Regions from separate parts of the Homo sapiens genome. Here region 2 is linked to region 1. Evidence: fine-mapped expression QTL. A gene starts in region 1. The other region holds a variant in brackets. All regions are shown on one strand. Distances are from middle to middle.

Region 1 (2,920 bases):
AGAAGGGCATTATATTTTATTAACTATGCCTATATTTATGTTATTTTGCACTAGCATTTTAAAGGGGGCTCCATCAGGGTGGTTCAATGTTTTATGGGCCCAAAAGCTTATATGACTTTAGGGACTCTTTAAAAAACACAAAATGAAATACAAAATTATAAAGTTAGTTTCAAGGCTTGTGAAAATGAGAGATCCCGAAGTTTGTTTCATTAGTTTCGTTGTAAATCTGCTGCATATTTCTTATTATGAGAAAATAATAGTATTTTCTCATTAAATTCCCAGGTCTCCTTTACCAGAATTGCTGTCTAATCAGATTTCTGCTCTGTTTTAGCACACCTTATAAAATTTAACTTGTATACTTAGCATATGGGATTGTGATTAAATTAATACATGTAAGGGACTTAGAACAATGCCTAGCACATAAAGCACACAATCAACCTTAACTATTATTATTTGTATTATTTACTAGAAGGACCTTGGCAAATAATTTATCTTCCCAAATCTTTTTGATGTAATGGAGCTCAAACGTGCCTGCCTTTTTCATAGGGTGATTGTGAGGATCAAATGATGATAAAATATGTGAATGTATTTTGTTAACTGGAAGGTATTGTTACTGAGGTTTCATTTGACATTGTTAATTTTGGAAAAGGTTCTGTTTAGGAAAGAAAGGGAGACGACTTTGGCTGTGGTGGAATCACTAAAGACCTCAATAAAAGTGGGAGGAGTAAAAGGGATAAGAGGTGCGTGTGAGGCAGATGCTGGAGGCAGTGAGCTGGACACGTTGTTTGACACCAGCTTGACGTGCAAACCTTCAAAAGATGAAATATATTGAATCTGAAACATATTGACCTCATTGTACAAAAGAAAAGAACCAGAAGGGTAGCGTGTGTGTGCTTGTGGCTTTCCACAATTTAGCCCCAAACTAGGTTTTTTCCAGACTCTTCTTCACCCGTGGTCATGCTCTGCAATCCAGATTCCCAGGCCTCTGCCCAGAGAAATCCTACTTACTCTGGGGAGGCCTTTCCTCCACGGGGTTTCCCCAACCCCTCCTGTCCCTCCCACAGGAAGAATAAATGGTTCCTTTTCAATGCCCTTCCTGTGAAAGCACTTTTTCCACTCTAGACTGAGGGAGACCCAGTTTTCCTTATTCTGCATCTCCAGGCTCTGCTCCAGTGTTTACCTCTAGGAAGGCGCTCAGTGAAGGTTTAGTCAGCAAATGCACTTTGAATAAATAACTTTTAAAAGTTGAGAGGACATTTAAGGCCGGGAATCGCAGTTGAGAACGCCTTGCCCAGGCGCATTAGCTGTCATCCGGGCTGCCCTGAGGGCGAAAGACGTCCTCCACCCCCGGGTCTCCGCGGCCGCGCTTGCCGAATCCCGCGGGAAAGGTCCCCCGCCCGCGCAGGGGCGGGGCCTGGGCGTCGGGGGCGGGACCGCCCGCGGGGGTTTCCGCGCCGGGGGCTCGTCCGGCGGGGTCGCGGGAGGGGCTTCCGCCGCGAGGGGGCGGGGCCGGCCCTCAGAGTCCTCTGACGGCCCCAGTCAGGGAATTTCAATTTGAAACCTAGCGGAGGGAGGAGGCAGGCGCGGCTGCCGGCGGCTGGGACTGAAGAGGGACGGGTCCCGCGGCGAGCGAGCTCCTGAGGTACGGCGTCGGGGTAAGGAGGCGTGCGGGGCTGCACGGGCCGGGCGACTGGTCAGTGTGGGGTTGCAGGGGCGGCTCAGATTTTTCCTCTGGCTGCAGCTGGGAAGCTGATTCCGGGCAGGAAGCGGTGGCGGGACGGTCCCACCGGGATGGGGGGCGGGGAGAGGGGGCCCGGCTTTGGGATTTTCTGCGGCTCCCTCTCTCCTTTCCTTCCCGGTCTCTGCCCGACCCGATTCTTGCCCGGGGGTCCGGGTCCTGTTGCTCCGGGCCGGATCCCGGCTTCGCTGCTCCCCGCGGTCCCCCTCTTCCCTCTTCCGGGGGACCGGGGCCGCGTCCCGGCGGAGCCAGGAAAGGCGGGGGCACGGGGAGGACGCCGTCCCCCCCGGGGTGCCGTGGGCTCAGGTCACGCGTCCGGGCCCCGTGGAGCAACAGCGGGAAAAATCCGGCTCCATCCCCCCCGCGGGGAGGGGGTCGGCCGCGGCGTCGCCCTTCAGGAGGAAGGTTTTAGGAGGGGAAGCGCGGGCCGGCCGCGCGCGTGGGGACTGCGGGAAGCCGGGCGAGGGCGGCGCGCCAGCCCCACGCGCGGTGCGGGTCGGGCCCGCTGTAGGCTCGCGTCCGCGCCCCCAGCTGCCGCCTGCGCCGTCTGGGAGCTGCGGAGAGGGACGCGTGTTTCGTGCTCCGATCCTTACAATTCCCACACCCAGGCCATCTCACCACAGATGGCTTGTTTTTTCTCCTCCTGCGCCTGGGGGCCGAGGGTTGGGAGCATTTTTAGGTGAGCAGCGGGGAAGGGCGAGGAGAACCTAAAGGAGCGCGACAGGGTTGAAGTCGGCGTCTGGGGACGCCATCCCCAGGCGCAGACGCTGCCCCCAGCAGCCTGAGGTCTGTGGTGGGACATCAGTTATGCTTCTCTAGATCGCTCACCTCCCCTGAGGTCAAGTTTTTTTTTTTATATATATGTATAAATAAAATGAGGTTTGGTGAGAAGAACTACTGCCTAGAGTCTATTATTTTGGGGAGGGGTCTGCGTATGGAGCCCTCCCTACGGACCCGGGTAGTCTTTCATTGAATTGCCCCATCAACACCACAGCTGCCCTTAATTTTAAGATCCCTGGGTGGATGGGAGAGAAGGTGGAATCTAGAGGAGCTGTGGCTATATTTTCGCTTTTCTGAATCACATCTTTCCCCAGTTTCTTGAACTTCTTGCCTCTGAAATGGCATGTGTGTGCCAGGCGTCTTGTTCCTCTTGTTACTGTTATTTAAGCTGTTTTAAAAAAA
Region 2 (2,920 bases), 66 kb after region 1:
CAATTTATGAAACAAATAGTCATAGGGAGAAAAATTTACCTGTTGCTAACTTATTTACTGGTTTTATTTACTGTAATCAGAGTCTACTGTTTGTAACTATGGCTGAAGTTGTTTTTTCACAATATAGAAATCATCAAATAGTTTTTCAGAGTACTGTCCACTGAAGATAACTAAGCACATACACCTCAGATAAAGTGAGGAATAATCAGTTTAGTATCCTGATTATCATCTTTCCCCATCCAGTCTATTCAGATATGCTATTTATTTTGTAATTAATCCTAACTCTCATCATTCCTTCTCTTCGTTTTTTTCCTAAGGCATTCTTAAGCTACTCTTTTAACAGTGTTTTGCAAGTGTTACTTGGTTGATCTTGGGTGGGTGTATCCCAATTTCCCCTACACCCCCAATTCATTAAGCAACTAGCTCCATTTTTGTATGGTGTTATAGGAAAGTTCTTGTCCCATTTTTGAAAAGAATTTGTCCTTAATCCATGTGAAAATTATTTGATTTTCATAGTCTTGGAATTCAAAAGATCTTGGAAAGAAAGTCAAAGTCTCATAGCTAGTAAGTGAAGGAGTTGGAATTGAAACTCAGATCTGTCTGATGCTGAGCTATGTTATATCTCTAAGACTCAATTTCCTTACTTATAAAATGGAGTCATTGGTAGTACATTTCTCATAGAGTGGTCGTGAGAAATTAAATGAAATGATACACATAGATTGCTTATCATAATACTGTTATTGCTTGTTTATAAACTACCTTTTAACAGGAATTATAGAAATACAGTGCTTATGAATCAAATTAATTCAGTTGATAAGTAAGGTTATTTTGTGATTTTTTTTAGTTATAATTTTATTTGCAAACTTAACAGTTGCAATAACTCGATTTTTAAAACATTAGGTGCTCTTATATACAATAATGAGTGAAACTTGTGTCCAATAGTTTCTTTTAATTCTTCCCTACAGACTGTCATTCTCCATGTTTAGCTCTGTTTTGTGTTAATTTTCACTGCCTTTTCCCCCCTGAAATGCAATAGTCCTGTAGTGTCCTACTGGAAACATTGTTCTCTTTGTTAGGGCTAAAGAAGTGCCTTTGTCACTCCTTTGAGACATTCTGCAGATGCCATTTTGCAGTCCTGAAAAACACGTCCCTGTCCGCCTTGTGCTGTGTTAAATTGTGCGTGTATTGTGCTTGATATTTTAATGAAGTCGTAGAGAAAATTTGACAGTAACAGTTGTCATATAACAAAGAAAGGCTCTTTCTTGATCTAATGTAGATATGTGTTCCCTGATCCCTTCGTAGCTCTGTGTGGTCTGAAAGTAGATCCCCCCTGCACTTAGATGTGACCTCAGATGGTTGATGCTTTTTGACTACCTTCATAGGAAACTGTTAAAACAACTTCTGAGCAGGAACTCTTAAGTCTTTTGTTG[A/T]TGTGCATTGCTTTTTAAAGACCTCTTAATTTACATGATCTTAATAGCGTTTTAAGTGGCAAGTACACTCTCTAATTTGCTAAGTGGCTTTAATCCTTGTATGAAGAACTGAGGGAAAAATCTCCTGGGAAATTGCTGTGATAAAATCCAGGAAATTCCTTTCATTCTTTTAAATCCAGTTCAAATCTAACTTAAAGAAAAGTCCTCTAATGTAACAGTGTCTGAAAGCTTCTCAGAGTCCAGTGATTTCTTGTGTATAGTGCCAAGCTCAAAGAGGAATAGTATGAATGTACCTCTGTGTTTTTGGTAAATCTATACCACATGGCACAATACCAATTTATTATAACTTTGCTGGGACTTAGTTATCCTGTTTTGTACTGCCCTTAAAACTGTTAAGGAGTATAGAGTTAAAGGGAGAAAACCCTACATTTTTCCATTTTAATGGACTTTATTTAAATTTTTGAAAATTATAACACATGTTCAGTGCAGAAAACTTGGTAACAGAAAAATGCAAATAAAGCAAAATTTCCAGGTACCCACATTTCAGGAATAATTACCGTTACCATTTTGGTTGAACATTTCCAGTCTCTTGTCTGTGAATATGTTCACATAGGTTAAAGCAACAGCATTATCCTTTTAAATTCACTTGTTTTCCCTTTGCAAAATAGGGTGATGCATTGCCACAAATTCTTAAGGTAGTAGAACTTAATTTTGGAAGTGTTAATCTATAGGGCATTCATTCATTCATTCATTAGATGGACTCATTTGAAAGTTCACAGTTTGTAGAAAGTGTGTACATTTATTGCCTACAGAAGATGTGCATCAGAAAGACATAGGCTAGTCATTTTGGATGTTTTCCAGGATCATATAAGTGTAACAAGTCTATATTATAACTCTTAAGAAGGCTTTGAAACAAGTAAAGATCAGATCACATAAGCCCTGACCCGTCCTGGAGGGGCCAGCTCACTGATTTCCAACAAGAGCTGATCTGTGCTGGCCTGACTCCTGTCATCTGGGGCAGAGGTACACAGGGGTTCCAGTGTTTGTTTATGTCTGGGCATCAGTTGGGCTTGTTTTATAGAATGATTCCAAGCTCTTGGTCATGCCATTCCATCTGTGTCTTTTAAAGATAAATACACAATTGGTATAGGACAGATCCTGTTACAGTAAACTTTATGGCAGAAACCAACTCTTTATATGGATGTTCTTTTGTAACTAAGGGGTATAAGTGAGAGGAAACCCTCCAAGGAGACTCAGATACTGGGGCCAGTCCCTCTCCAAAGAAGAGACAGAGTATCTCTGGCTCCCTTATTACTCTGAGGTCCAGTGGGAAGAATATTTACTTATGATATACAGATAATAGAACAGGAAAAACAAGTTTCCTTATCTATTCATAACTGTGCTATTGAATTTATATGTTCCAATATGGTTAACCTGGAATTTTAGGGGACAGTGGGAGGAGATAGAAAAGGATTGGGAAGGAGGATATG

The links.
Region 2: its variant is fine-mapped to the expression of EPB41L2 in blood mononuclear cells (TOPMed, PIP 0.92).

The regions. Positions count from the first base shown.
Region 1 is chr6:131,061,877-131,064,796 of GRCh38, reverse strand. EPB41L2 (erythrocyte membrane protein band 4.1 like 2) reads left to right here and starts at 1,552. Exons shown (of 20, transcript NM_001431.4): 1 at 1,552-1,642. It overlaps LOC105378004 (a long non-coding RNA gene), which reads right to left and starts at 1,394. Exons shown (of 3, transcript XR_942993.3): 1 at 1,181-1,394. RefSeq lists silencers at 1,316-1,655, 1,996-2,095.
Region 2 is chr6:130,995,856-130,998,775 of GRCh38, reverse strand. The region is part of intron 1 of EPB41L2 (erythrocyte membrane protein band 4.1 like 2); the gene reads left to right. Among named protein-coding and RNA genes, the nearest start is that of EPB41L2, 66 kb to the left of the region's middle. The variant A/T (reference allele first, on the strand shown) is at 1,431.